Linked DNA regions of Homo sapiens. The protein of the gene in region 4 purifies or fractionates together with the protein of the main gene of each other region. This does not show direct contact. Each region holds a gene or a part of one and is shown on either strand. Other genes may lie near its edges.

Evidence for each region.
Region 1: the proteins of DHRS9 (region 4) and TULP3 purify together in Homo sapiens (co-immunoprecipitation; one study listed by IntAct). This does not show direct contact.
Region 2: the proteins of DHRS9 (region 4) and GALNT11 purify together in Homo sapiens (affinity purification with mass spectrometry; 3 studies listed by BioGRID and IntAct, with this or other methods). This does not show direct contact.
Region 3: the proteins of DHRS9 (region 4) and SLC16A10 purify together in Homo sapiens (affinity purification with mass spectrometry; 2 studies listed by BioGRID and IntAct, with this or other methods). This does not show direct contact.
Region 5: the proteins of DHRS9 (region 4) and EMB purify together in Homo sapiens (affinity purification with mass spectrometry; 3 studies listed by BioGRID and IntAct, with this or other methods). This does not show direct contact.
Region 6: the proteins of DHRS9 (region 4) and SLC60A2 purify together in Homo sapiens (affinity purification with mass spectrometry; 3 studies listed by BioGRID and IntAct, with this or other methods). This does not show direct contact.
Region 7: the proteins of DHRS9 (region 4) and CHIC2 purify together in Homo sapiens (affinity purification with mass spectrometry; 3 studies listed by BioGRID and IntAct, with this or other methods). This does not show direct contact.

Annotation. Positions count from the first base shown.
Region 1 is NC_000012.12:2,914,499-2,919,093, forward strand, and holds part of TULP3 (tubby-related protein 3), read left to right. Parts: intron 1-4,595. UniProt on the Homo sapiens protein: Negative regulator of the Shh signaling transduction pathway: recruited to primary cilia via association with the IFT complex A (IFT-A) and is required for recruitment of G protein-coupled receptor GPR161 to cilia, a promoter of PKA-dependent basal repression machinery in Shh signaling.
Region 2 is NC_000007.14:152,119,122-152,123,383, reverse strand, and holds the end of GALNT11 (polypeptide N-acetylgalactosaminyltransferase 11), read right to left. Parts: intron 2,554-4,262; coding exon 2,416-2,553; exon of another isoform or gene 2,369-2,415; intron 1,867-2,368; coding exon of another isoform or gene 1,839-1,866; coding exon 1,707-1,838; coding exon of another isoform or gene 1,558-1,706; 3' UTR 1,044-1,557; downstream 1-1,043. UniProt on the Homo sapiens protein: Polypeptide N-acetylgalactosaminyltransferase that catalyzes the initiation of protein O-linked glycosylation and is involved in left/right asymmetry by mediating O-glycosylation of NOTCH1.
Region 3 is NC_000006.12:111,173,678-111,178,272, forward strand, and holds part of SLC16A10 (monocarboxylate transporter 10), read left to right. Parts: intron 1-3,534; coding exon 3,535-3,988; intron 3,989-4,595. UniProt on the Homo sapiens protein: Sodium- and proton-independent thyroid hormones and aromatic acids transporter.
Region 4 is NC_000002.12:169,093,075-169,097,274, reverse strand, and holds the end of DHRS9 (dehydrogenase/reductase SDR family member 9), read right to left. Parts: intron 1,732-4,200; coding exon 1,508-1,731; 3' UTR 1,108-1,507; downstream 1-1,107. UniProt on the Homo sapiens protein: 3-alpha-hydroxysteroid dehydrogenase that converts 3-alpha-tetrahydroprogesterone (allopregnanolone) to dihydroxyprogesterone and 3-alpha-androstanediol to dihydroxyprogesterone. Also plays a role in the biosynthesis of retinoic acid from retinaldehyde.
Region 5 is NC_000005.10:50,399,789-50,404,383, forward strand, and holds part of EMB (embigin precursor), read right to left. Parts: intron 3,667-4,595; coding exon 3,390-3,666; intron 2,532-3,389; coding exon 2,498-2,531; intron 126-2,497; coding exon 71-125; intron 1-70. UniProt on the Homo sapiens protein: Plays a role in the outgrowth of motoneurons and in the formation of neuromuscular junctions.
Region 6 is NC_000006.12:111,261,823-111,266,417, reverse strand, and holds part of SLC60A2 (sodium-dependent glucose transporter 1), read right to left. Parts: intron 4,162-4,595; coding exon 3,993-4,161; intron 2,589-3,992; coding exon 2,472-2,588; intron 543-2,471; coding exon 1-542. UniProt on the Homo sapiens protein: May function as a sodium-dependent glucose transporter. Potential channels for urea in the inner medulla of kidney.
Region 7 is NC_000004.12:54,015,641-54,020,235, forward strand, and holds part of CHIC2 (cysteine-rich hydrophobic domain-containing protein 2), read right to left. Parts: intron 1-4,595.

The DNA.
Region 1 (4,595 bases), on a different chromosome or scaffold from region 4:
GTTTGAATTAATTGCTGTGTATAGCGTGAAACAGAGATTCAGCTTCATTCAGATATTCAGCTTTCCCAACACCATTTATCGAAATACTTTCCTGTTGAGTATATCTTGCTTTTATTTTTACCAGTTTCACTAGGATACTCTTTCTTGTTTTTGAGGAGAAGTCTTTCTCTGTTGCCCAGGTTGGAGTGTAGTGGCGCAATCTTGGCTCACTGCAACCTCTGCCTCCCAGATTCACGTGATTTTTGTGCCTCAGCCTCCAGAGTAGCTGGGATTAGAGGAGTGCACCACCACGCCTGGCTAATTTTTGTATTTTTCGTAGAGATGGAGTTTCACCATGTTGGCTAGGCTGGTCTTGAACTCCTGGCCTCAAGTGATCCAGCCACCTTGGTCTCCCAAAGTGCTGGGATTACAGGTGTGAGCCACCATACCTGGCAAGATACTCGTTTTCAGGGTATGTGGGCACCTTAGCAAGCTGCAGAATGGATTTTCTTTTCTTTTCTTTTTTTTGAGACAAGAGTGTAGCCCTGTTGCCCAGGCTGGAGTGTAGTGGCATGATCTTGGCTCACTGCAACCTCTGCCTCTCGGGTTCAAGCGATTCTTATGCCTCAGCCTCTCGAGTAGCTAGGACTACAGGCAGACGCCACCATGCCTGGCTAATTTTTTGTATTTTTAGTAGAGACAGGGTTTTGCCATGTTTGTCAGGCTGGTTTCAAACTCCTGGCCTCAAGTGATCCACCCATCTCGGCCTCCCAAAATGCTGGGATTACAGGCGTGAGCCACTGCGCCCAGCCCAGAATGGATTTTCTGATTCTTGCTGTGATATTTCTGACATGGATGCATATTAGGTAGAGTACATTTATTTCGTCTGATGAAAATGGATTAAAGTACAACATAGTTCCTTTGAGCCAAGTTGCTCATCTATTTGTATGATGAGAGGTCATCACTGCACTGAATGATATTTTAAGAAGTCTAGTTTAAAAATTTTAGTCTTACCTTCCTATGATCTTGCTTTGTGGGCGGGGAGATTAAGTTAGTTTTTTTATTTTGTTTTTTTTTTTTGAAACAGAGTCTCGTTCTGTCGCCAGGCTGGAGTGCAGTGGTGCAATCTCAGCTCAGGCTCACTGCAACCTCCACCTCCCAGGTTCAAGCGATTCTCCTCCCTCAGCCTTCTGAGTAGCTGGGACTACAGGCGCATGCCTCCACGCCCAGCTAATTTTTTTAATTTTTAGTAGAGATGGGATTTCACCATGTTGGCCAGGATGGTTTCAATCCTTTGACCTCGTGATCTGCCCGCCTCAGCCTCCCAAAGTGCTGCGATTACAGGCGTGAGCCACCGTGCCCGGCCGAGATTTTTAAACAAACTGATAGACTGCAGACAACTAGCCTGATGCTGGTTGTACTCTGTGGTTGGTCAGTCTGTTGGAAAACTGTCATAGTGTAACCTTAGCCCATCACCTCTAGGGTGACTCCTTGTCTAGGAAAATTGAGAATTAGTTAAACTATCATTAATTTAAATGAAGTTTTATTTATTTTGAGATGGTTGCTCTGTTGCCCAGGCTGGAGTGCAATGGCGCGATCTTGGCTCACTGCAACCTTTGCCTCCCGGGTTCAAGCAATTCTCCTGCCTCAGCCTCCCAAGTAGCTGGATTTACAGGCTTGTGCCACCACATCCAGCTAATTTTTGCATTTTTAGTAGAGATGGGGTTTCCGGCATGTTGGCCTCGAATTCCTGACCTCAAGAGATCGGCCCACCTCAGCCTCCCAAAGTGCTGGGATTACAGGCATGAGCCACTGCGCCGGTCAGAGCTTTATTATTTTATTGGATAAAGTTATTTCATGGAAATTTCCACCTATCTGATCTCCTTTAATTTCTTACTGTTTATTTTGACATCACCATTCAATATTTTAGCAGGATAGTAAGACATACCACTAAATTCTTGGGAAGATAGATTCTTTTACAGTTCAATTCCCAAGATAATTAGGAAATTTAAAAGTGATTAAGTTTTAGTTTATATGACACTTAAAATCACGAAGGCAGTGTGTTTTAATTGCATTTAGGGCATCTAACCATCAGCTCTGGCTTTCTTCCTGGCTCCCTGACTTACTCTATCTTGGTAATGAGTCCTTCATTGATGTAGCCTCGTTTAAAGCACTTTTAGGTTTTCAGGGAAGTAAAATATAGATGGAATAGGAATTGACATTGTTACATTCAAACACAAGTAGCACTTCTCTCCTCCCCCATCCAAACTGCATGACGGTTTTCACCAAGATGGCAGCTTGCACATATATGTTTAATGGTATTTTTCTTATTTGTAAACTTGGACAGTAGTAAGATCATTCAATACTGAGGTATAGTAGCTGTGGCCCTGATTACAGTTTGAGTCTACAGTTGTTTTTTTCTTAAGTCATTGGTCTAAATGAGTTTGATTTGTCTGTAAGTAGATAGAGAGAGGCTTCCCCAGATACCTTGGCAGGAACACTGTGGTCAGGGGTCTAGTCTCCCCTTAACAAGTGAGAGCTTAGTTTGTCAGTGAACTGGATATAACCAGGTCCTTTGGCACAAATTCACGCTAGTTAAACCCACACCAGTAAGTTTTAAAACCAGAACCCCAAGTTATTAATTTATAAAGGGAGCTCTACTCTTTCAGTGTGTATTCATGTCTACTGTTCATAATACTCTTTTCCTGGGAATACGATACCTAAGAAGTTAAACTTCAAATTAGAAGGCTTATTGGTGAGCAAGGAATCAGAGGGAATGAGGTCAGGAGTTTGAGACCAGCCTGGTCAACATGGTGAAACTCCATCTCTACTAAAAGTTTAAAAATCAGCTGGGCATGGTGGGGTGCACCTGTAATCCCCGCTACTCGGGAGGCTGAGGCAGGAAAATTGCATGAACCCGTGAGGCAGAGGTTGCAGTGAGCCGAGATCGCACCACTGCACTCCAGCCTGGGCAACACAGCGAGACTCTGTCTCAAAAAAAAAAAAAGATACTTCTCTTTCTTGGACAAACCTGATAACCCTATCAAATTCTAGCTCTTTGGCCTCCCTTTTCTAGACCACAGCAGAAAACTCCTTTTCTATAGAAAATATTTTCCTTGGCCAGGTACGGTGGCTCATGCCTGTAATCCCAGCACTTTAGGAGGCCAAGGCGGGCGGATCATGAGGTCAGGAGATCGAGACCATCCTGGCCAACACGGTGAAACCTCATCTTTACTAAAAATACAAAAAATTAGCCGGGCGCGGTGCCGGACGCCTGTAGTCCCAGCTCCTCGGGAGGCTGAGGCAGGAGAATGGCGTGAACCCGGGAGGCGGAGCTTGCAGTGAGCCGAGATCGCGCCACTGCACTCCAGCCTGTGTGACAGTGCAAGACTCTGTCTCAAAAAAAAAAGAAAATATTTTCCTTGCATGTGAACCCCATCTCTACTAAAAATACAAAAAAAATTAGCTGGGTGTGGTGGCAGGTGCCTGTTATCCTAGCTACTCCGGAGGCTGAGTCAGGAGAATTGCTTGAACCCAGGAGGCAGAGATTGCAAGTGAGTTGAGGTTGCACCATTGCACTCCAGCCTGGGCAGCAAGAGTGAAACTCCGTCTCAAAAAATAGCTACAGCATTCATTTTTGTTTTTGTTTTTGTTTTGAGACAGTCTCGCTCTGTCGCCCAGGCTGGAGTGTAGTGGTCCAATCTCGGCTCACGGCAACCTCTGCCTCCCAGGTTCAAGTGATTCTCCTGCCTCAGCCTCCCAAGTAGCCGGGATTACAGGCGCTTGCCACCACGCCTGGCTAATTTTATTTTTTAATAGAGACGGGGTTTCACCATGTTGGCCCGGCTGGTCTCAAACTCCTGACCTCAGGTAATCCGCCCACCTCGACCTCCCAAACTGCTGGGATTACAGGCGTGAGCCACCGCGCCCAGCCTACAGTATGTGATTTTGTTTCATCGATCATTTCACAGACTATGTATGAGATGAAATAGCTGTGGCCACATAGATAAGATATGGCAGTTTCTTATGATTTCAGTACTTCATATTTACCACCTTTTCAGGCAAGTTACTTTTTTTTTTGAAATGGAGTTTTGCTGTTGTTGCACAGGCTGGAGTGCAGGGGCATAATCTCAGCTCGCCGCAACCTCCGCCTCCCAGGCTCAAGCGATTCTCCCGCCTCAGCCTCCGAGTAGCTGGGATTACAGGCATGCGCCGCCACATCCGGCTAATTTTTGTGTTTTTAGTAGAGACGGGGTTTCTCCATGTTGGTCAGGCTGGCTTTGAACTCCCGACCTCAGGTGATCCGTCCGCCTCAGCCTCCCAAAGTGCTGGGATTACAGGCATGAGCCACTGTGCCCGGCCAGCAAGTTACTTTTTATCCATTATACAAGACCTCTTGGTTGCTAGAAGAATTTTTTTTTTTTTTGAGACAGAGTCTCGAGTCTTGCTCTGTCACCCAGGCTGGAGTGTAGTGGCATGATCTCAGCTCACCACAACCTCTACCTCCTGGGTTCAAGTGATTCTCCTGCCTCAGCCTCCTGAGTAGCTGGGATTACAGGCATGCGCCATGACGCAGGCCAATTTTTGTATTTTTCATAGAGACGGGGTTTCACCAT
Region 2 (4,262 bases), on a different chromosome or scaffold from region 4:
TGGGAAGTGTGCTAGTTTTTTATAATATTTGGAGATTTTTCCAAGTGTCTGTTATTGATTTCTATTCTACTTTGCATGACTTGAATTTCTATACGTATATCACACCTTGCTCAATATCCCAGAATATGGTCTATCTTGGTAAATGTTCCAAGTATTGTGTTGCTGGGTAGTGTCAATTAGGCCAAGATGGTTGTTTTTCTGTCTACTTGTTCTATCAATTATTGAGAGGTGTGTTGAAATCTCTTACTACAATTGTGGATGCGTGTACTTCTTGCAATTTTAACAGAACTTTGGGATTATTTCTTCTTGATAAGTTGAACCTTTTATTCATGAAATGACCCTCTATATCATCTGTAGTAATATTCTCTGTGCTGAAATCTACTTTGTCTATCTATTCAGATGTCTTTCATATATCTATCTTCCCATCCTTCTAATTTTAATGTATTCATAAAGTGAGTTTCTTACAGGCAGCATATAGTTGGATCTTGCATTTTTATCTAATCTGCCTTTTAACTGTGGCATTTACATTCATTACACTTAATGTGATTATTGACACTGTTGGATTTCAATCTGCCATCTTGCTGCTCTTGTTTTCCATATGTACCATCCTGGCCTTTGAAGTCAAATGACAGATAAAATATTTAGGATGTGGCAAACTGTTTTGTGGTTCAGATAAAATATCTGAGTGCATCCCCTGCAATATGAGACCATCTCTCCTCTTAAGATGTGGTTTGGGAGGAAACTTCACTTTATATTTCAGAATTTTTAGTATATGCAGGTGATTCCCAAATGTATTCTCTAATTGAGCTACGTCTTCCAAGAGTCTGACCTCTATATCCAACTGCCGGTTGAGCAGCTCTCCCTGGGTGCTGCACAGGCAACTTTGATGTCCAGTATCTAAGGTCACACAGCTCAAGCTAAGAAACTGGGACGCGTCTTGAGAGGCAGAGGACTCTACCGAGCCTACTGGGTCATCACCTGAATCCAAGAGCATGCAACACACCTCAGACCAGAGGCCCCAATACAAGACAAAATATCCTAAATAATCAAAAGGATTCTTTATTATGTAGATTGTATCATAATTCATCAAAATAATTTTATAATTAACTGCCATACTGTCTTATAAATGATGCCTTCTGAAGTTAAACATAATATAGATTCAGTTTTTTAAAATGATCTACTTACAACATACTAAACAAATAATAGAAGTTTTTTTTTTTTTTAAAGCACTATCTCCTATGAAGTCTAAGAAAGGAAATCATGACAAGTTCCTGATCAGATAAAAACCACTGCATCATTAAAGGGGATTAAAAAGAGGCATAAATAAATCTGAATAGAAATATCCATTTTCCTGGGTTTTATCCTTCTGTACAAGCCCAATTCTAGAGTTAAAATGATACTGTGGTTTGCCTCTATAAGCAAGAAATTCCTTAACAGCAGCTCAAACATCACCTTAATGTCCAGGTGAAACATACTCACTTCTTCACCCGTGGACACTCACTTCTTCACCCGTGGACACTCAGAGCTCCCGTCTCTGTCAGACACGTGTCACCTCTGCTAACACACCCAGGCATCTCCGGGAGGACAGGGAACTGTCATCTTCTCCAAGATGGTTCTGCTCCACCCAACCCAGGCTTTCCTAAAGCCCCAAACTCCACACCGGAGGCAACGCCTGATGAAGCAACGTTCCCACCACAGCATCCACCTTAACCTTCCAAATGCCACTGCTGTGAAGAGGAGCCATCGCAGATCGCCATGGCGACAGAGCCCTTCTGACCCAGGGGATCCACTGCTCTCAGGCACTGTCCAACCGACACCTGGTATAGCCGATTGTTTTTCTGAAAAAAAGGTAGCAACAAAAAAATACTGCCAATTACTGGCAAAACATGGAAATCCAGAGGAGAGATGGAGCACTTAAGAATTCAGATTAAGGGATACAATAGTCCCCTCTTAGCCAAAGGTTAGTTTTCTGCTGTTTGTTATCTGCAGCACAATACAATAAGATATTTTCTGACCGCAATCACAATTTGTATTATAGTATACTGATTTGTTTTTATAGAGAAAACAAACAGGCTGTTGGGCTACGGCGATCCGCCCACCTCCGCCTTCTCAGTGCTGGGATTACAGGCGGGAGCCACTGCGCAACCACAGTATGCTGTTCTAACTGTTCCGTTTCATTTCAGTTATTGTTGTGAACCTCTTACTGTGCCTAATTGATAAATTTATCACAGGTGTATCTCTAGAAAGAAATACAGTATATACAGGGTTTGTACTACCTGTGGTTTCTGGGGGGACCACTGTACTGCAGACTGAGAAGACCACCCCCAAGGTAGAAAATGAGTTCATCTGCCACACTCCCTCACTCAACCTTGTGGGCCTCTGCGCATTCTCCCAACATCACCGAGCACTCCTCACCCCAAAGGTCCACTGCTGGGATCCTCCTGACCCGTGGCATTTCATGAGCCGTGGCGGGTCTGATGAGCGAGTCTCTGACATATCTAGACAAAGGAGACTATTTAAAACCAATTCATGCTCTTCATTATAGATCCAGATCTAGAGAAGAAAAATAAAATAAAATTTAGATAACGAATTTTAAGACTGAACAACACTTTGCATATTCTTCCACATATTGATTCTGTAAGGTCTCAAAGCAGAAACAGACCAATGCACTAGACTTACAGGGAAGCAGATTTCAACTTGGTTCATTCCACTTCAGATAGCTAAGGCAGGAGAAAGTGAGGTGCTATTCTGGGAAGAAACCTAAGCAGTGGCTGAATTTTGTTCATTGAATTTGACTGAATTAACTCTTTTCCAATTTTAGGGTTTAACAATTACATAACTCTCTTAATTCCTGGACTGTGTAGGTGACAGAGGAGCCCGACAGCCTCTGGCTGACCCTCTGGAGACAGAAGGGCACACGGCTGCCATTTTCGTCGATGCCTCATCGGGGCAGTCAGGAAGTGCACAGGCTGAATCACAGATTATCTTCAGGAACACAACTGGGTGACATGGCAAGTGCAGTGAACAACTCACTCTCCAACATGCGCCATCACTATGCTCAAAAGGAACCTATTCTCTTCTGTTCTATTTACTCATTGCTTCAACTCATAGAACCCAAATGGATGTGTGCAGTGTTCACTAATATGAAGACCCTGAATCAGAGTCATAGGGAGCTGTGAGAGAATTTTCTGCAACACTGTTATTGTCTCATAGCCTGTGTCCAATAAGGGAGCTACTGGCCACATGCAGCTATTGTACACTTGAAATGTGACTAGTGGCTACAGAATTAGCACAACTATGCATATAAGCATAACTAAGCAATAAGCATAACTAAGTTAGCCTTAGAATAGGATAACTCCATCACCCCAACTTATATTTTCTGGAACAAATTTCAGCTCTCATCTCACTGTGACCTACACCACTGAAACTGCGTCACCGCGATTTTAATACTTCCACAACACTGCCACCTCTTCTACCCAGAAGATGCACAGAAATCCCTTCTTTTTTTTGAGACAGAGTCTTACTCTGTCACTAGGCTGGAGTGCAGTGGTACAATCTTTGCTTACTGCAACCTCAGCCTCCCAGGTTGAACCAATTCCCCTGCCTCAGCCTCCTGAGTAGCTGGGATTACAGGCACGCACCACCACACCCAGCTAATTTTTTTTGTATTTTTAGTAGAGATGGGGTTTCATCATGTTGGTCAGGCTGGTCTTGAACTCCTGACCTTGTGATCCGCCCACCTCATCCTCCCAAAGTGCTGGGATTACAGGCATGAGCCTCTGCACTGGGCCCCAGAAATCCCTTTTAAACTACATTTTCAACACACGTATCACCTGAGACAGTGGGCGTGACCTCTTCTGGTGGAGCGCTGGATGACATCTCACAGCACACATCACAGCACACATTATTTACCCAAAAGCCCAAGTGGCTTTTTTTTTCCTTTCTGAGTGACACCAACCCACCACTAAAATAGAAATGAGACACTACAATTTATGAGATTAGACTGCTGTTCCATTATGCTATTTTATCAGACATAAACGAGTTTGAAATTACCGTTCTAAACTGAAGTTATTTGCTGATTTTTAGGCCCGTTTTAATATTATTTAGGAGACATACATAAGCTGAAATGAAATTAGGTGAATGGAATCAACTGAAATTCTGTAGTGCTTCCCTTGGCCATTTCTAACAAATTCCTATGGCTCGTAAGTCACAATTTATTCCGCATAATATTAGAAAGTACAAATAATGGTGTAAACAACTAA
Region 3 (4,595 bases), on a different chromosome or scaffold from region 4:
CACTCCCCTTATGAGAATCTAAATGCCTGATGATCTGTCACTTTCTCCCGTCACACCCAGATGTGACTGTCTAGTTTCAGGAAAACAAGCCCAGGATTCCCACTGATTCTACATTATGATGAGTTGTATAATTATTTCATTATATATTACAATGTAATAATAATAGAAATAAAGTGCACAATAAATGTAATGCACTTGAATCATCCCTAACCGCCCTCCCCCGGCACCATCCATGGAAAAATTCTTCCTGAAACTGGTCTCTGGTGCCAAAAAGATTGGGGATTCCTGTATTAGAAGAAAAGACACAGTGCACTGAAGAGGGACTCACTGTAAGGAACGGATGGGCACATAACTGCATGGAACATCTCTCCCTGCAGCTCTAGTTCTCCTTGTAAGTCCCTTGCGTTGGTAGAATAATCCTCAGTTAGACAAACACTGATTTAATATGTAGCTCTGGCTAACAGGAGGTGATTAAGAAGAAAACCTCTTAAGATGATTTCCATCCTTTGTCTCTACTTTAGTGGTTTATCTTCATTTCCTGCCTCTTTCCTGTCCCTAGCTGTCTTTATGCTGCTTTAGTTGAAAAGCGTTAATGTGGTCATTAAGGAAAAATAAGTCAAATTTACATTTGACTTTTTATTTTTAAATATTTAATCAACAGAATCCTTGGTTTTACTCATTGCCGCCCCCCACCCCCCAACACACATCCCTTCCTCAACTCTAAAGTGAGCCTCATTCTTTCATATTTTCTTCCATCTAATTTAGAAATTCTATTTGGATTTTTAAAAATTATATTTATTTCTTTGTAGAAAATAGATATTTTCATCTTTAAAGTACCTTTATGGGTTTTTTCTTCTAAAATTGTTTTTTAAAGAAAAAAGTTTTATTTGGAATAAGATTCTTGTAGGTAATTCCATGAGATGATTTATTTTAGCAGCAACATAATATTTACATTATTATTAATGTAATTAATGTTATTAATACCTCATCAGATAGCTTCTTTGATCTGGAAGCTTCCAGGTACCTATTGTCAGTACTTGTGGCTCTACCACTTGCCGAATGTATTACAACTCTAGTTGTGGTAGAGAGGGGACTGAGAGGTAGACAACTTATGTAATCTACTACCTAGTTTGTTAACAAAACACACATACAAAGCAATGTTTTTCAAATTTTTCTGACCACTGAGCAATAAAAATTATGACATATATTTTGATGTGACCCAGTTCTGTCTCTCTTTCTCTACCCTCTAAGTGAAACAAAATTTATTGAAACCAAAATTCCCTTACTACATGTAATATTCTCATATATTCTATTAAATTTCGTTATTTAGCTTGCTGATCAAAGGCTACTGAAACTTGAGAGCAAGATACAGGAGCAAGGGGAAATGTGGTATAGATTCTGAGTGTCAAGTGGCAGGTCCATTTTTTCCTCTAGCTCCAGTTCTGCCTTCTGAGGAAAACCTTCTCCAACAACTTAGGTCAATCACACCCATGTCCCTTCTCTGAATCCTTTTTGCACATATGATTGGTATCCGACAGCCTTACTCATTTACATTGCACTTATTTGGCTGCCAAACGTCACAAACTGGAACCATGTGTTACTGAAGGGAAAACCTGGAAGTGAAAAGGGTTCAGCAGTAGTGCAAATACCATCATAAAGCTCATATACTTCACTCTGCAGGAGGGAGAAGCTCTGTGGTTTTCCAACTGAGAGCATTACAGTACAGTGATACCACTGTACAGGAACTGATGTTCCTGATGATTCTGCTGTGAACAGTATTTTTAATATACACTTTGAAGAAGGCAGAGAGAAATGTATAATAGACTTAAATTTTTTTCTTTAAAATTGTTAAATAAAAACAAATAAGCACTTTAAGTAAGTTACAATTATCTGGAAAACTACTTAGGTGGAAAAACTGATACAGAATGAATGAAGTATTAATTTCTGTTTTGTTCTGTGTTATTATTATTTGGGATAGATGTCTTGTTTCTTTAAGCAGACTATGAATATCTTGAAGGCAGAACCACATTTTTTTTTTTTTTGAGACAGGGTCTCACTATTACTCAGGCCAGAATGCAGTGGTGTTATCATAGCTGACTGCAGCCTGGATTCCTGGGTTCAAGCCGTCCTCCTGCCCCAGCTTCCTGAGTAGCTAGGACTACAGGCATGTGCCATCACACCCAGCTAATTTCAGCTATTTTTTTTTTTTTTAAATAGAGATGGGGTTTTGCTATGTTGCCAGACTGGTCTCAAGCCATCCTCCTGCCTTGGCCACCCAAAGTGTTGGGATTACAGGTGTGAGCCACCACGTCTGGCCAAGGACCAGATTTTTAATATTCTTTTCCACAATGTATCTGGTACACAGTAGTTGCTTAATATGTTGGCTAAACAAAGAGTGGAGATTCAGTAAAGGGTGATCAGAGTGAGGTGAGATTAATTTGGGAAAGCCTAGAAGTGATTCTTGAGCCTGATTTGAAGGTGGTGCTAGCTGTGGATTAGTAGAGGGAGAAGGGCATCTCAGAGAGAGGATTGCCAACATGCCTTAATTTTATCAGATTCTAGAGTTCCTTATGATTACCTCAGCATGTTGCTAGACTAGCATTATTATCCAAAATTTTAATTATTAACCAACTTTAATCTTACTTTCTAACAAATTGTTTGCTTTTACTACTGATAGCCTTTTCAAAAAACTTTAACTAGTTTTATTCCTTACCATAATTGTTTCAAAGAACATAATGATATGATCCTTTATCTTCCTAAGAAATGTGCAATTATTTGGTTAAACTGTAAGATTATTTAATCCATTATTCTTTTGACACATGCATGGCCTTACAGCTTACAAACTGGGATCACTAAAGGAATACACTTAATTTAAGTCTTTCTGTAGTCAGAATATGATTTCTTGTTGTCTTGCACAATACTGAGAACAGTGCAGTACAGGGCGAAGGTTGGTCTACAGCCCTTAGGCCAGCAAAAACAGGCACAACTGCACCTCTGTGCAAATGTTCCTGACATAACCTTGGGGAAAAAATATAAAATGCGGCCTTTTCTTTTACTACCTTGTTTGGTAAGTACCTGGAAAAACTCCATGAAATAATTAGATTTCATAGTTAATTCTAACTTTTTTAAAAAATGTTTCATTGAGACTAGGTTTTTGGTTTGTTAATTGAATCACTGTTGATTTTACCCTTCCTGGCACCAACCTTTATTTCTGAGCTGTGGAGAGCACAGTTCTCACTCAGTGCTGTGTGCGTCACCTGAAATCCACAGAAAGAGGTGGCTGAACAAAATCACTGATGACCTTAATGGTTATTTTTCACATATTCAGATTAAATTAAAATACGTTTAGTGCTACATGCTTGACTTACTGAGTTTTTCCCTCTATTTTGGTTAATTTTTTTTTTTTTTGGTTAACTTTTACTTGTAGAAAATATGTTGATGAACAAAAACCCACTTATACTATAAGATTTTATTCTACCAAGCACACAGTAACAATATTGAAAGCTGCTTTCCATCTTTTTCATCTTTATACAGTTCCATCGAGCCTCTGTACCTTACCTATGGAATCATATTTGCCTGCGGCTGCTCCTTTGCATACCAGCCTTCATTGGTCATTTTGGGACACTATTTCAAGAAGCGCCTTGGACTGGTGAATGGCATTGTCACTGCTGGCAGCAGTGTCTTCACAATCCTGCTGCCTTTGCTCTTAAGGGTTCTGATTGACAGCGTGGGCCTCTTTTACACATTGAGGGTGCTCTGCATCTTCATGTTTGTTCTCTTTCTGGCTGGCTTTACTTACCGACCTCTTGCTACCAGTACCAAAGATAAAGAGAGTGGAGGTAGCGGATCCTCCCTCTTTTCCAGGAAAAAGTTCAGTCCTCCAAAAAAAATTTTCAATTTTGCCATCTTCAAGGTGACAGCTTATGCAGTGTGGGCAGTTGGAATACCACTTGCACTTTTTGGATACTTTGTGCCTTATGTTCACTTGGTGAGTATGCTCCTTCACTGATCATGAATATTACTATTTAATAAAGAAAAACTTCTTTGAAGAGAAAGTTAGGTCGAGTTAAAGTTGGCCTCAAACATTATCCTGGTTGTAATTTTGGTATTCTTGAAATGAAAGGTCTCTCAAGACAATGTCAGCACATCCATTAGACCACTAAACAGAGAGAGTATGTTTCATAGTGTGCTTTGGTATTTTAAAAACCCTGCAAACCCAGCCAGACACCATGGTGCCTGTCTATGGTCCCAGCTACTAAGCTGAGGCAGGAGGATCACTTGAGCCCAGGAGTTCGAATCCAGCCTAGACAACATAGAGAGACTCTACCTCTAAAAATAAAATAAATGTCCCCAAACAAACACAATGTTTTTTAACAGGAAGGCTAAAATAGTGGAACAAATTACAATCAGTATAAAACATTTGATAGGTCTCTTTTTCTTCATATGGCTTTTATCAGGGACAAAGCTAGCGCTATGATTTTGCTACCATAAGTAAATTGTTTTTCAACCGAAGGGTGTAGGTAATTAGCAAAAAAGCCATGATGTTGATACAAAGAAACATTACATCTACTTGTGGTACACTTCTGGGAAAATGG
Region 4 (4,200 bases):
TCTTGCTCCGTCTTCCAGGCTGGAGTGCAGTGGCATGATCACAGCTCAATGCAGCCTCAACCTCCTGGCTCAAGTGATCCTCTGCCTCAGTCTCCCAAGTAGCTGGGACTACAGATGTACACTACCATGCCAAGCTAACTCTTTAGTTTTTGTAGAGACAAGATTTCACTATATTGCCCAAGCTGGTTTTGAACTCCTGGGCTCAAGCGATCCTTCTGCCTTGACCTGCTGGGATTACAGGCAGACTTTCTTTGCAATATGTTAAGCATGTGTGTATATGCCTCTGTGTGTGTGTGCACGTGCACACTTGCACATGTGCATTAGCTAATCTCTCTGGCTGTTTACACCATATTATTAAGCAAAACATGTTGCATTCTGCCACTGCAGGCTTCTTCTTGTAAATAGTCTACAAACCTTTGCGAGCAGTATTGGCTATTGGAATCGGGAAACGTCTGTTTAGGGAACTCTTTCTTTTGGATGGGGTGTGGGCCCAGGGTCTATTCAATTTAGAAACATGAATATAAGCAAGATGCAGATCTAATCCCACTGTAACTGTAGACTAAAGAGAGCCTTTTTATTTAGCTCTATATCTTCATGGGGCTTCAAAGACCCTTCAAATGCAAGATTTCCAGCCATCTCAGGTGTAAGTTGTGCCACATGGTCTGGGTCTTGTTACTTTTACAATCATCAGAATAAACCAACCAAATGTAACATTATTCTTCTTTTGGAATGATTAGTTACTATGTCATTACATCTTTCCACCAGAAAACTGTGTGCATCAATGTTCTTAGGGGCTTGAATAGGATGTTCACCTCCATAGCTCCCTCTAGGAAGGCTTGTCTGAGTGTTGGGGAGTCTCTCTTCATATATATATATTTAGGTATATATTCTTTTGTTGCAGTCCTCTTATTCCTTTTCCTATCTTTTTCTTTCCTTCTGTTTGCAGTTCTATCTAGTGTTTTACTGCTGCCTTTAGCTTATACCCGTGTCACACAATGCTTGATCACCCTCCCTTTTCCTGTCCTTTTCAAAGCTTATCAGAACTGAGCTTTGGTCCTTCAGAGTCATCCTCAGCAAGGTAACAGAACATGTCTATCCACTCATGAAAATGTTTGACTTATCTTTTAATATTTAGATAAGAGATGATACTTAACATTCACAAGTTACTGTAAATGCTGGGGACCATAAGCATGGGGCAGGCCACGGTAAAGATCATTTTGAATGGGCAAGTCTTTCAATTTCCCTTACATCACACCAAGCAGGCAAAGCCTAAATACAGGGCAGGACTTGCCTATGTGATGTACCATTCCAGCCCTCCTTTTCAAAGAAAACTTGAGCAGGGACCCTGGGATACCACCAGCGATGGTGGGACTCCCTTTTGCAATCCAAATAAGCACGATCTAAATGAGTCCAGGTTGGAGCAGATAAGGAATGGGGTTGAAAAGGAGATGTGTTCTTGAAATCGGCCAATTTCATAGCCTGGAGGAGACATTTGTGGTTAGCTGAGTCACACTGCCTTGGGATTAGCCAGCTCTGCTTTCTGTTTCAACAATAAAAAGTCTTGCAAAGCTGCTGGCATGTGAGACAGAGGTATCCAGAAAATTTTGGCATCTTTTCCAGCGGCATAATGAGTCTTAGGGAAGAGACTTGTTAGAGCGTGGTCCATGCACTCTACCACCGGAGAGAGGTCCATGTTCACATAGGATTTATTGCCTTTCAGTTTGTCTAGACCTAAAAAGAGACAAAAGTACATTTACTCTTTGGTAGAAGGGGAAAGCAGAGTGGAAGTCTAGGGTGCAAAGGGGAGGATGGATACAAGGGGATTTATTCTGAATTGTCCATTATAATTGAGGCTCATTTTGAGGATTTACTATCTATTCCTCAGAAAATGATATTGCAATGCTTTCTTTAGACCAGCAGCTCTCAAGATTGGGTTGGCAGCAGATTCTTCTAGAGAGCTCATTAAAACCCAGGTTTCTCGGTTCCACCTCCAGAGTTTCTGACTGAGGTATGAGGTGGGGCCCAAGAATGAGCATTTCTAACAAATTTCCAGATGATGCTGATGCTGCTGGTCCAGGGATCAAACTTTGATCCCTCAGTGCTTTAGAGCAATGAGGAAACGATACTTCATAAAGCCCATGAGGCCCCTAAGCCTAGAAAGTTGTATGTTTGATTTCTAATTTGTTTTAGGGGATTATGTGTCTAGAGAAAATGTGGGTTGCACATGTGCTTGTGCATGTATGTGCATGCATGTGTGGATGTAATTGTGCACTTGTATACTTGTATAGGCTTCTATAATCTGTAAATAAAGAGAGAATCATCCCCAAATGTACTGACTCAGGAAGCTAAAAGGATCCCAGTTCTCATGCAAATGAGATGTTTGAATAATGAGCGAAGATACCTTTAGAGAGGCAGGGATTTTACAAGGGATTAGTGGTGGATTACAACCCCAGTCTTTTCAATACATGGTATTGGGAAAACAGTATATCCACATGAAGAAGAATGAAACTGAATCTTACACCATATAAAAAAATCAACTTAAAATGGATTGAAGACTTAAACATAGACCTGAAATTATAAAACTGCCAAAAGAGGCCTGGCATGGTGGCTCACACCTGTAATTACAGCACTTTGGGAGGCTGAGGTGGGAAGATCACTTGATCCCAGGGAGTTCAAGACCATCCTGGGCACCATAGTGTGACCTCATCTCTATTAAAAAAAAAAAAAAACTACTAGAAGAAAACATAAAGGAAATACTTCTTGACATTGGTCTGGGCAATGATTTCTTTGGATATGACCCCAAAAACACAAAGCTAAACAACAGCAAAACTAGATAAGTGGGACTGTATCCAACTAAAAAGCTTCTGCACAGCAAAGGAAACAGTTGAAAGAGTGAAGAGAAAACATACAGAATGGGAAAAAATATTTGCAAACTTTATATCTTAGGCACAGTTAATATCCAAAATGTATAAGAAACTCAACAGCAAGAAAAGAAATAACCTGATTAAAAATGGGAAGAGAATCTGAACAGACTTTTCTCAAAAGAAGATACAAATGGCCAACAGGTATATGAAAAAAATGTTTGTCACCACTAATCATCAGGGAAATGCAAATTAAAACCAAAATGAGATATCACCTCACATTTGTTAGAATGGCTACTATCAAAAGACAAAAGATAACAAGTATTGACAAGGGCATGGAGAAAACCTCTTGTATACTGTTTGTGAGAATGTAAATTAGTACAGTCATTATGGAAAATGGCATAGAGATTTCCCCCCCAAATTCAAAGTAGAGCTATCATATGATTCTCACATACTTTTAAACCATACCTGAGCTGTGTCTTCTCAAGGGAAAGTCTATGATGTTAGATCTTTCTTTCAACTTCAAGTCCCACTGGCCACAAGTTGTTCAAAGAACCTAATAAGTCTTAGTGGCTATTTTAAACTCCTACTATCCCAGCTTGGGAAATTAAGAAAAGATGACCTTCAATTTGTGGTCTACTTTGGGACCGTGACTTTGGCTGATCTCCAAGTCCTGACTTGAAAACTCTAGTGAGAACAACCAGTGTAAAACTGAGCTCAATGCCTTTTGGTATTTCTGAGACAGAACACATGAACCAGGAACCAAGCCAAAAATAATTGGAGATGGAAGTCAGTGATATATTCAAAGGCATTTAAAAAGTATCGGTATCAATATCAAACAGAGAAAGCTCTTTTAAATGAGGGGTTTTGTTTCTGAAGTATTAAGTTCCATCTTAGATGGAACCTACATAGAACCTTCAGAGTCAGGAACTGAAAAGTAGAGTATTTGATGGCAGTGGCTCTAAACCTATAGTGGCATGTCAGCACTAAGATGTTTGTAAGACCAGACATTTCAGTTGATATATAGATAATGTGTGTACCTCTGTGTGTGTGCATGTGTGTGTGTGTGCGTGTGTGTGTGTTTAGGGTAATGGTGGTTGGAGGAGTCAGTCATTTTAAAAACCTCTCCAGGTGGGTCTGACTTGGCTTTCAGCTCTGCCTTGAAAACTCCTGACCATGAACCTTGCCACAGTTGACAGTCTTACCAAGTCCACTGATTAAGAGGCCTGAGCACAGTTTGGAGGGAAAGAACTACCCATAGTTAGGTGGAACCCTGCTCAACTCAAAGCAGGAGGTCAGTGAGTACTTGAGGAATATCAAGTAAACTTTAACCGACCCA
Region 5 (4,595 bases), on a different chromosome or scaffold from region 4:
CTGATTGATAGATAGCCTATGTATATTGAATTTGACCTTTTATTTGGAATATCATTCAGAAGTAACTTACATTTTTTCTATGCCTGGGGACATTATTTTCTATACCATTGCTATCATCTGATTTCCTGCACAGAAAACAAAAAAGAAAATTACTAAATGCTTATATTATATAAAATTAAGTCAGTACATCACTGATATGGCTATCAGGTTAAAATGTAAAATGTCAATACGGACAGAATTCTTTCTTCCTAAAAATGTTTTACTTACAATGTTGAATTTATTTTATGGCATTGCTTGAAGAGGAGCTGTTACCACAAATGATAGTGACAAAGGCTTGTTGATTTTATGCACAGGGAGAATTGCTTCTCCCCAAGCATGAGTGAGGACTTGGGCGTAAAGACCATAACTTATGTGTGGTTTTGGAAACATGCAAGGTAATAGCCAATTAGGAGGTCAGCCAACATGTGTGATATTGGTGCTATACATTTGTATGCTTATTACACTGAAATAGAGGTTAAAAATGGTTCTTTTTCCACCCAAAGTTTATCAGAGCAGGACTACAAATGTGGGCCTCAGATTCTAAAGATTGACGGAAACTAAATAACCAGTATGCATAATGAATACCTTGCCCTTCAAGGTCTTGGGGGCAGGCGTCAATTATCAAATCATAATGCATATTATAAGACAGTGTTACTTACAATTAACTGATAATTAATATTTTCTAAAAAAAAAGAAATCCCACGAGTGCTTGTTTTTCTTTTGTGTGTACTCTTCAAAAGCAGAATAATGGCCACTAAGAAAACACCTCAGCAACTATTGCAAGAAATGGTTTGAGGGACATCAAGAAGCTCATTGTTCTGAATGATTTCAAGTGCCCTTGATATTTGTATACAATCTAAAGATAGTGAAATAACCTGAAGAAAAACTAAACACCTTCAGTGATCCTTATGGTGCTATACAAGATGAGCAAAATGATGTACATTGATCCAATTTTCAGAAAAATAATTCATCTTTTACACTATATATTGAATCCATTTTACATTGTTCAGAAGTGATGGTCCATTCCACACTGTTCTGGTACCATCCTTTCAGAGTGTGTTTTAAATCAGAATGCAACTTCCAAATGTGAGCTCAGAAGAATGGTTAGAGACAGTGGGAGGCAGAGCTCGGAGAATAGAGGAATCCGAGCAAGGTTCTGTTTTCAAATATGTCAATGACTGTCACGTTTGTTATATGATGCTAAGAACAAGAAAAACGCCAATACGTGGAAATAGGAAAGATTAAAAGTTCAAATCAACATAAATAAGATATCTATGTTCTCCAGAAAGAGAAGGGATTCTCTTGGGAGAGATACAATTCCCTTCCAACTATGGGAGTCTATGATTCTAAGACAACATTGCTTTTCTCTATCTGGTGTTATAGGATTTCTGATGTAGTTATTTTGTGCCCTTAACTTGGAAGCTCATATCATATTGGTTTATTTTAGCAGCCTATGTGAATGGAGTCAACATGATTATCTGAATAATGTCTACAAACATCTAAATGACAACTGTCTGCTCCACTCCTGCTATCCATGCCTGTAACACTCACTCCATAGAGCTCCTGTTGGCTGATAAACTCTAAGTGCCATTTTGTGTTAGTTATAGTTGCTCAGGCCTTCCACTTCTCAGGTTTCTTGCAGCAACTTTAATCTAGCCTCGTTTTCCTGGACTCCAGCCCTTGGCTCTATTGTTCAGGCTTTAATCCCAGTCTTGGACACCTCTGTCACTGGCCTCCATACTCAGTTCTCTGGCTTCGAGGAATTCGGAACTCCCATCTTTGCCAAACTAAATTACATCCCTGGTGATTTTATTTCCAGACCTCCTCATGCTTAACTCTAAACAAAGGCTGTGTAAGAGAACCTGTGGCACAATTTGTGTTCTCTGAATAATAATAACTAATAGAATTCTAGGCCAGTGATTTTCAACAGACAGAGGATCAAAACCATTTGTAGATGTTTTCAAGAAATAACAGATGCCATAGCCCCAACCCAAGAGGTTCTGATCCAGGAGATTCAGCAAGGTCTGAGCAACTGTATTTTTTTAAAGAGGCTCTTAAGTGATCAAAAATTGCCAGGCTTGAGAACTATTGCTTTAAAAATAATAATATTAAATACTTCCTGATGGTTACTGCACACCTTCTGTGCACCATAACCTATGCTATGCATTTACACATATATAATATTCATTCCATCCAACAACCTCATATGGTGAGTACTATTATTAAATCCATTTTGTAGAGAAGAAAGCTGAAGTACAGAGAAGTGCAGGTAGTAAGTGATGAAGAAGAATTCTCACGCAGGTAGGCAGACTTGGAAAGCCACTTTCCACCACCACGTGGACATATACAGAAAATACTCCTCTGCCTTTTCTCCCCCTAACTGCAAACATTTCATTCAATTTTATGTTTCCCTGTATTTTACCCAAGTGAAAATTAATCTGTAAAAAATAATACTTACAGCTGTTCAATCTGCTCAAATTCTTTCCCCTCATCTGTGTAACAAAAGAAGAATTTGACTGTGAAGTTGGTTTGTCACTTTTATGGAACATATATGCTCAATTAAACCTCCTTCCTAAGTAAGTAAGTACTATGCTGTTTCTCCTGTTTGGAATGAAGGAGAGACATGCTACCTTAAACACCTACACCTCCTTTATCTGCACTACAGACCTTATCTGCATTTCTGATCAAACATAGTTTAGTGGCCTGGTATTTTCAAAAACATGACTGCTTAGTTTGTCATTATTTAAATCATTAAAAATTTAGTATAAAATCAGGAAAGAATACAGGACGTAAGGTCAATTTTCTAGAGGATTACTGCTTTATCAACCTGTAACCCATCAGGCACAGGCCGCAAAAATAGGACATGACAGGATGGTCTCTCTTTAATGAGAACTCTGGAATGGTTAATAAAATATTTTTTTAAATGATAATCTAAGTGAAAGAAAAATTGTTTCTTTTAGACTTTTTATATTAAGCTATCATAGATTTTTCTAATATTCCAGTGCCAGAATACATATCACCTAATTGGTACTTAGGTACCAGTAGCACCAAAAAAAAAAAAAAAAAAAAAAAGAGGGGGGTGGTGGGGGAAGAGAAAGAAAAAAGGCATTTTTAATACTAAGTTTTTTCAGGAATTGAAACAGGAAGACCATGGGTATATGTTTCCAGCTCACTGTCACCATTGTTGTAAACCTAAATACTGCTCCAAATAAGAAAATGAAGATTTTCCCCAAAAATCCTAAAGTCATTGCAATGTATCAAATCATAATCCATATCATAAGTAAATGATACTTATAATTAACTGATAATACTTTCTAAAAAAAACAAAAAACAAAAAAAAGAAATCCCACCTGAGTGCTTCTTTTTCTTTTGTGTGTACTTTTCACAAAGCAGAATGGTGGCCACTAAAAGAATCACCTCAGCCACTATTACAAGAAATGGTTTGAGGGGCACCAAATAGCTCAGCACCACAAGCTCAATGTGTTCTTCACTCTCGCCTAATTGGAATAGTGCACGGCACCAGTAAGATTCCCCATCTTCCTCCAAAAGTTGTGTTATCTTCAGCTTTGTTTCGTTAGCATATGTTCCATTGATCACATATTTATTCATTTGAACACCAACAGGAACCTAATATGAGGAGACATTAAAATCCATTCCTATCATAGCACATAAAAGATACATGACATAGTTTTTCAGTGAAAGCTATAAGATAATGCCAACAATATTGCTTACTAGAGAAAGGCATATTAAAGTTTGTGAGAGGTTATCTATAACAGACTTAAGTCTTATCAGAGTTTGATCTCCCAGGGAGCAAACAAAGAAAAAATATATACATTGCTATAAGGATTTAGCAGTGAATGTTTAAAACTACAAAGAAGCAAATAGGTCATCATGAATAAATATTATAGAAGAATTAAAAACAGAAAAATCCCAATCATCTGAGTCTCACATTCCTATCCTTGCCTAGTGCTTTAAAGTACTTTTTCCTTCACAAGCACAGGCACATATTCAAACAACTACCACCCCGGAAGCTACTATTTCTGATCATTTCTATAAAGGAAAATCGCTCACTCAGACAATGTGATTTCCCCAGGCTAGAAATGAAGATGAAACTCTCAGGCTTTTGGAGCTGATGTAGATAGAATGGAGGGGACCCTCTGTGAGCCTGGGATCCGAAGTGAACTGCACACCTTCTGTCTTTTCATATCTGAATTTCTTTCTCACTCAGATAAGCTGGCTTCTAAGATTTGCTGGGTTTTCCACAGCCTCACAAGGTGCCATATTAAGCTATTTGGGGCTGTTTTATTTAATCTATTTAAATTAAATTTTATTCCCAAGCCATTTGATGCTTTTCCTGCTCCATCACTCAACCGTGCTATTCAATAAATGCTAATCTGCATACAAATATTCTCAGAGCTTATCCAAGGAATAATTATCTGTGAGTATATTATTCGTGCAAAAAAAATTACAGCAACCTGGCACCATGTGCACAACACTGCCTGGAATGTTTGGTACAGATTGGTCAGAGCTAATCAATCAAAGTACCATATTTTTAA
Region 6 (4,595 bases), on a different chromosome or scaffold from region 4:
TGCCAGGCCCCTGCAGGCTGCAAATGTCCCCCAGAAGATGGAGTTCAACCCAGCAGCTTCACTTTCTTTCATGCCAGCATGGGTGGTTGCAAATGAGAAAACATAAGAGCCATATGTTACCTCAGCTCCAACATAAAAAAAGAAGAACAGAAAAAGGAGACAAAGAAGGGCGTTGTGATATTTTGCTCTTCGAAATGTCTCAGCAGATGCTCTTGCTTTTTCTTGCTTTGAGCTATTCTTTAAAAACAGACAAAAAAAAATGACAGAAACTAAGAACATGTAAGTACCGATAACAGCATAAGCCCACAGTAAATTCTTATCATTAGGTACTCCAAACAGAGCTTCTGAGTCAGCATCAGATGATTGGTTGAGTGCAGGATGGAAGTCAGACTCTGTGTGGTTTTCAGCAGACGCTGTCGGACCCAAAGCCAGTTTAGCTAGCAGTGGAGCCAAAAAGGCACCCAAGGCAAAAGAGAAGTGTAAGGCCTGCATATGTGGGGCTCCTTTGTCCCCCCAAATAGCCAAGATAAGGACGTTACCACCTGTCGATGAAAGATGGGAAAAATTATTTAAGTTAAACAGTTACTTACTTATTAAAAAAAAAAGTTCACTTATCAGAAAGGGGGTGAGTCTATTTTACATAGCACAAGCATTATAATATTCTAATTATCAAACATTGCAACTAAATCAATTCTGAGAAAGGAATTCTAACCCACTACCACCAGACAACTCTAAGCATTATAACATCACATACTCACAAATCGAATTCTACAGTCTAGTAGACTACTACCTCCTAGAACCAAGCACATTAGCAAGACGCTTTTTATAATACAGTTCTAACATCAGACTGCAGAAGAAATATTTATATATTAATATTTTAAATATATATTTAAAAGGCAAAATTTTATCATCAGATAGTAGCCAAATTACCAAAGCTTTCTGTACTTGCTGTTGGTAGCCACTTGAGGAAAATTACTTACTTATGTATGTAACAGATGCAAAACACACGTCCAGGAACCTGAATAGCCAGGATTCTGGTATGCCCATTAGAGGAAACAAGGACACCGTTTAGCATCTGAATTTATACTGTCTAAACGTCTAGGAGGAGAAAGGCAAGAAGCAGCACATCTTGAGCTATCTTCTTTTTTTTCAACAGATATTTTCAGATAAATATATAATTCTACCCTATAATTTCATAACAAAATTAACCCTAAAGTAAAATAAAATATTTCCTCAACAGATCACGTAACAGCAAAGCAGGGAAGGGAGGGGTAGAAAGCTGGTTTTAGGAGTAAACAGATGTCATCTATGTTATTTAGTAGGTTTTCTGTTTGTTTGTTTTTGAGACCCTGGCTGGAGTGCAATGGCACAATCGTGGCTCTCTGCAACCTCCACCTCCTGGGTTCAAGCAATTCTCCAGCCTCAGCCTCCTGAGTAGCTGGGATTACAGGCACGCGCCACCATGCCTGGCTCATTTTATATTTTTAGTAGAGACGCGGTTTCTCCATATTGGTCAGGCTGGTCTTGAACTCCTGACCTCAGGTGATCTGCCCGACACAGCCTCCCAAAGTGCTAGGATTATAGGCGTAAGCCACCCCGCCGTTATTTAGTAGGTTTTTTTTTTTTTTTTGAGATGGAGTCTCACTCTGTCACCCAGGCTGAAGTGCAGTGGTGTGATCTCTGCTCACTGCAAGCTCCGCCTCCTGGGTTCATGCCATTCTCCTGCCTCAGCCTCCCGAGTAATTGGGACTACAGGCGCCCACCACCACACCCGGCTAATTTTTTGTATTTTTAGTAGAGATGAGGTTTCATTGTGTTAGCCAGGATGGTCTCGATCTCCTGACCTCGTGATCCACCCATCTCGGCCTCCCAAAGTGCTGGATTACAGGTGTGAGCCACCGCACCCGGCCTATTTAGTAAGTTTTAAAAGACATGATGATGATACGGGAAAGAATCTACTGCAGGAGGCCAGGAACTTTGAGGACAGAAAGAAAAAGAAAGAGCCTAGTCCACACTATGGATCTCTCTTGGCTTGGAAGTCAGGGTAAATGTCAAGTTGGATTGCTGCTTCTATGCTTTCTCAGCCAAATAACAGTTCCAAACTTGGTTTAACCTATTAAACCACCAATTCCTCCCATACTAGAGCAATAAAGTTCTACCCCAAGATGAAGGCCTATTCACCTGCACTGTAATTACCCACACAGGGGCCCTTCCCTGTTTGGACAATGTAAATCAATTATCTCTCATAGAACAAAATTCTTTAAGTTCATTTCAGAGTTGGCTGCTCAGAAACAGGCCCCCTAATTGGCAAGAATAGCTGCTAGAAGGGTGATTCATTCTGAGTGACTCACAACCAACTCAGTAGGTCTGTGTCATTTTAGGGGGCATTGCAAGTGACAGTTTAGTATCATCTGCTGTACTTCTTCTAGCAAGTCCCTACTCCCAGAGATGACGTTGAAGAGCTCACTAACCTGTATCCAGAATGCCAATTGAAACACCGAAGATAGACATCATGACAGTGAGTAATATTGCTGTCTTGCAAAAAGGAACAAGATAAAGACCAACGGTGGTAGCCGACATTGAGATTCCTGGGAAGGTAGAAACTCAGCTATAAAAAATAATATCCATGCAGTCATGGATCAAGTCAATATCATAAATGTCCAAACATGCAAAATCAGGTCAAATTTAAATTAGATAATGAGTAGATGAGAGTTTTTGCTTCTAAAAGTGATTATTTCATTTGAATCTTTTATAATCTTTATGGATTATGAAATATAAATAATTATAACACAAATACATTTAAAGCACTGCTAGTAATCAAACTGTAAATTATACCATAAGGCAAAGTTTTATACCAAAAGAGACAAGCCAAAACTAATTTAAATGATTCACATTTAAGAACCTAACAGGAATTTTTAGACATGAGGCAAAAAATTAAATAGACAAAAATAAAATGCAATTACTAGAGTAGTTTGTAATAAAATTTACTAAATAAATTAGTTTGGGAAATAGGGAGGAAAATACAAGAAATATGTTATTTCAACCCACTTTGGAAATAAGAGGGATTATTTATTAATTCCTTAACAATAACAAATTATTCTTGCTTCCAAAACAATTTTATCATATTAATCTAAATTTTCTCTAAATATTTCAATTTATTCAAAAAAAGTATATGCTAAAAGCTTTGCCAGCCCAGGCGTGGTGGCTCACACCTGTAATCCCAATACTCTGGGAGGCTGATCCTTTGAGCTCAGGAGTTCCAGACCAACCTGGGCAACATGGTGAAACCCCGGCTCTACTAAAAACACAAAAATTAATCAGGCATGGTGGCTCACACCTGTGGTCCCAGTTAATTGGAAGGCTGAGATGGGAGGATCGCTTGAGCCCAGGAGGGGGAGGTTGCAGTGAGCAGAGATCGCATCACTGCACTCCAGCCTGGGCAATAGAGGGAGAGGAGACCCTGTCTCAAAAAAAAAAAGCAGCTTTGCCATCTATTTCCAGGGTGAGACAGAGCACTCTGGGGTTGTCCAACGACAACATGGGGCAGCAGGAACAAAAACATAGCCTACATCAGTCCACCCAACCTCGCTTCCCCTCTTCATTCCCAATCCAGGGTGTAGCCTGGGCAGGTTCAAAGAGCTCATTCTGATCTGTGGTGACCCCAGGAAATCTGCCCTAAACCCTCTAAGCAGAGTTTTTTGGACAACCAGTGTGTGATCCAGGAGTGGTAGCTAAATTATAGTGGTTGGAAAGGCTAAGGATTGCTAAGACACTCTAGAGCTAATCTAAATTTCCAGAGGGACCCAGCACAGATACCCTCTAACTGTCAAGATGAAAGCAGGTACCAGGGAAACTCAACTGCCATTGAGGACACCTAAACACTACCCATTTCAGTGGCCAACCATTCTGCATGCTAGTATTTTCATATTTTCAAAGACAACTTGTAAATTCACTTGACAGTCATAAAGAAGCTAAAATTAGCATTTACTTACCCAAAAGTAAAAAATAATTCATGACATCGACAAGAAATCCACCAATCACAGAGCCACTCAAATATCCCAAGGCACGACCCACAAAAATGAAAGACAGACTACTGATATTTCGGTTCACGTTTGTTGCCAAATCTTGAAACGTGGGTCCCACTATAGCAACACTCAATCCCTAAAATTTAAAAAGACAAAAGTTTTTACTTATAATCATTAAAATAATGTCTAACTATGTGGTAGTTTCTTCCACTATAAAAAAAAAGGGGGGCGGAGGGTCTGGGATTTACAATGTAATGTAGGGAATTAGACTACTGTTTTTTTAGTTTTGACTAAAACTCTTATTTTTTTTTTGTTTTGACACCTCTCAGTTTTTAAAAAATTATTTTTTTGTTGCAATCCTGTTTCCTTTCTGAACAATACCTTTAAAAGACTATTCTGTATTAATAAAATGTAATATTAAAACTATTTTTGAAATGGTTTCGTACATTTTGAAATATATTACATGCACAAATAAGAATTTGGGTATTAAAAATTTAAATTGGCCGGGCACAGTAGCTCACGCCTGTAATCTCAGCACTTTGGGAGGCCGAAGCAGGCGGATCACGAGGT
Region 7 (4,595 bases), on a different chromosome or scaffold from region 4:
TGAAAAGAACATGATCTAACTGCTTTCAGCCCTCCGTAAATCTGTACTAGGTCTTTAGCACAATGCAACTTCCAATTTAAAAAGCACTGAATGTCTCGTCAATGACTTTGTGAAGAAAAAAGAACAAGGAGCAGACATAAAAATTCCAATAGTTGTTTAAGCATTAAAGTTCATTTGCATCACAGCGAACCTGAAAAGGGCTGACCTCTCAAACCGCCTCTCAGGTCTATGAAGTTGTAGCCTTGACAAGCTCACATTGACAGAGCTCATTGACTCTGAAAGGCTACTCTATCAATGGTGAAAAATGGCAATAGGTTCTACTCTGAGCAGGCATCTGCCTGCCCACCCGCTGCTAAACCAATGGCAAAACCGATTCAAAACCTGAATCTACCTTGTAATCTTTCTTTCTAGGGCCTTTTAATAATAGATTAAGATTACTATACAATTTGAGGTTTTACTTTTACTGATGATTTTGGGGGTGGGTGGATGATGAAAGAACTAGAGCAGAACAAGTTTTCCAAGCCCACTGTTTTATATTAATGTATAAAATAGTACCCAAAAGCTTAATACTACATTCTGCAAATACTTATTACTTAAAGAAAAAAATGTAGTTACCACCATCATTTCATCAGAAGTTTAAACCCATGCTATAATAAGAATAGATCTCATTATGATATATAGACACATACATACACACAATTTTAAAACTTAAAAATATTTACTTTAACTTAAATCAACTACTAGTATTTGAATAAAAGATAATTACAAAGTATAAATCTTGAATTCCAAAATATTTAAGTAGGAATTCTGAATTTCTTCTCTGTTTATAATTAGGAGTTTAATGATAGGGCTTGGTATAATAATTGTATCTTACAATATTTAAGAATTATAAAACAAACAAGCCCTGATATGCCACATTCTGAATAAGCATATAAATATAAAATATTTCTACACACTTCACAGTCTGAAGTAAAAGCTGTGAATTAGCACCATCTAATTTTGCTATAAGACTTCTTTCCTGCTTGACAGGTGAAAAAAAAAGCACTTGCACGTGCAGCTTAATTAATCATTGCACTTGACATCTCAATGATTTACAGTGAGGAGCAGGTGAGAACATACAAAACCAGAAAGGAACCCTTGATTTGAGTGGAACATTTCTAGCACACTAAGGTGACAAGTATATAGATTCTAGCAGTCATTTAAAAAAAAAAGGAAAGAAACTGTGCCACAAATTATTTGTTAGTAACAACAAAAGCTCAAATTAAATAGAAAAAAAAAAGGTTGAGCTACTGAGAATGTTTAATACTATGCAATTATTGTTAGTTAAGAAAATCAAAATATATTTTCAAGATTAAATACAATACCAATTTGGCAGATACTAAAAAAAATGACACTTCAGCATTTATAAAAGCTACTTAAAAGCTTTTAAAAGAAAGCACTTTATAATTGTAGTCATCTAGATAAAAGTTAAAGAGTTTATGTCCACAAGGCTGTCAGGTAGCTATTTCTAATGAAATGTAAGATTCAACAGTGTCGAACTCTACACTTGCTAACTGTGGACAAGCAAATCTAATCATATAACAACCTGTCCTTGGTTTTTAAATGTTTATTTCAACTCCAAATTCAAAACAAGCTGAAGCAAATTAACATGCATCAGAAAAAAATATGTATGGGATCTGTCAACATGAAACAAAGTACCAAAAAACACCATCTTTCAGTATTCCAGGCCAGTTTCTAAAAAAATAAGTCATCTTTAATTTTCTTTAAGAGAATTTAGTGCTTGTGAAAAGCACCAGATTGATAGTCATGGGAACTAAAAATCTATTTAGCTGAAAGAACAGGGGAAGGGGCAGTGCAGGCTTTAGTGTAAGCTTCCCTACAGTGGGCCTTAATCCTTTTCACTGCTCACACCCTGGGGGTGAGGGGACAGGTTAGCGGTTCTTTACCAATGTAATTCTCCGTCTTTCTGCAAAAGATGATCAACAAGAAATGTAATTTTATCAAGTATTCTTATCTTTAATTAAAAGGACCAAGACCACCAACTCACAATATGCAGGAAAAACAACTTTTTTGTGTGAATGGCGTCATGTTACTAACCTGGTCTGGAAGTAGACAGCTCCAAGCATCTGGATCCCACCCATCTCCCTCAGCTCACTTTAAATAACCCTTTTTCTTTAAAAAAACAAAAACAAAAACAAAAACAAAACACACATTTCTTCATTTCCACACCTTAGTGGTTATATTTTTCTCATTGGTGAACTAGTTTTAATACAGCCATTCAGCTTTGTGAAAGTAAAAATTAACAGGAGATTTAAAAAATATCATTTCAATTACTGAATAGGTATTAAACAGACTTAAGTTGAGCAACAAGTAGTAGTAACATAAGAATAGAAATTTTGGCTTCTATTTATATTGCCTTTGGTCCCTTTTAGATTTTTGGTAGAATTGTGAAAATAGGAAAAACATGAAAACGGAAAGAGAACTAAAAGGGCCTCAGTAATTCATAAAATGGCTAATATGGTAATGATTAATCAGCAATATTAGATAAGACATACCCAAATAAGACATACCTTCCAAAGAAGCATCTAAAGTAAGCTTATAACAGCAAAGCACACATACACCTAGACAAACTCAATTACTGCAATAGAAAACTAAGATTTCCTGAAAATTCAAATTTGAATTATTATGTATTTTTGTAATTTTTCCTAAATACTGTAACTTTCTTAGGAATAAATTATTAATATTATTCCCTATAAACAAATTAAATGCCATTAGATATAAATTAGTCTTCCAGGACAGCAAAGAGCCATTTAGAAAATCTTTAAGGTATTAATCTCCTACTTTGCCACCACTGGTTACTTAAGAGTTTCCTAATTCCCAATGACTCATTTAATCACAATCAATTGTTTGAAAACATGGTTTTACAAAGAAGTGGTTTTCTAGACATTACTAATAAAACCAATGGAAATCTCATAAATTTTAGAGTATTGAGAGCTAAAGAAAAAAAATGTTAAGTGTAGAAACTGTAACAAAGTTTATCTTAATATTTCCCAATAAAATAGTATTATCAGTCTTTAGAACAAAAATATGCTATGATATGCTAATAAAATGTACAGAATACTCACTAATAACTATTTATAAAAGTTCACCTATTTAAACCTATAATTAAAATGTATTTGAATTGGATTTATTCATACCATCACAAAATGGGAAAGCAAAATTTCAAATGTTCAATTCCCTACTTAAATTTTAAACTCTTAAATCTATAATGCATTAATTAACCTTTAACTAAAATGTTTTGAATATATTCATAATCTTGTTTTTAACTTATATTTTTCAAATAAGAATGCTATTCATCTTTAGACATCTGTGTAAATTGAATTTGTTAAGTAAAACAATGTCTTTAGCTGTAAGTTATTAGGGAGAAACCATATATAATTTAAAATGAATTATTTTAACATAAGAGAACTTAAGAGGAAATTATATTATTCACTTCTGCTCATTCTGGATTAATATGAAATTTTATATTCCAGTGATGTGCAGAAAATTAAATAATTATATCACAGTATTATGCTACGTGAAAAGCCTAGATTCACCAAAAAACAAAAAAAAACTAGAATATGATTTCTCAAAAGGATTTTTAAACAAATTCCTTTCCTGTACATTAAAGCACCTTTTAAAATTTTAATATGAACATTAACTTTTAAATAATCTAGATATATTAAAACACCCACTGAAGTATCATGTGCTATTTGTTAAAAGTAATATTTTTAGATAGAAATACGCTAAAAAAAATTGCTAAAATTTTGTGAATCAAAAATATCCTCTAGTACTGAGCAGTGTCTTAATAGGTGCTAATCTTAAACAGAATTTCATCAAGTTTACGATCTAGGCTAGTGAGAGAATATTAACTTGTTTAGGTTATACTGGTTATGAATTATGAAAGATAGGGATTCTCTCTCTGCAGAAAAAAAGAAACATGTACACAAACATGCACAATTTAAAGGGGGTTATCTACTAACTCTGAGTACCATTTCAGAAAATACTAACATTTTAAAAAACTAAAATTAAGTTTTGAGGTCCCCATCTGACCCATCTTCTGCCTGACCTATTTCCACTAAGCAATCATCCCACTCGGTCTCAAAGGGTTCTTTTGGTTTCAATAATCTAGTCAAATAAAAATGCGCTTGGGTTGGGGCAGGGTGCAGGAAGGGTCTCCTTGAATTTGGGCAGCAAATATGTCACTATTATTGTTAAAAAAAAATTATCCAAAAAATTAAGAGATAAAAATTAATAAATATAGTTTCAACTGACCACAGAATATTAGAAAAACTGTTCATAAGACAAAGGAATTTCACTATGCAAATAAAATAAAAAGTACGGCTATCAGGAATTTTTAAAAATATATGTAATTACAAAAGAAAGAATCAGTGCTTACTGTCAGGCCTCTGAGCCCAAGCTAAGCCATCATATCCCCTGTGACCTGCACGTATACATCCAGATGGCCTGAAGCAACTGAAGATCCACAAAAGAAGTGAAAATAACCTTAACTGATGATACTCCACCACTGTGATTTGTTTCTGCCCCACCTTAAC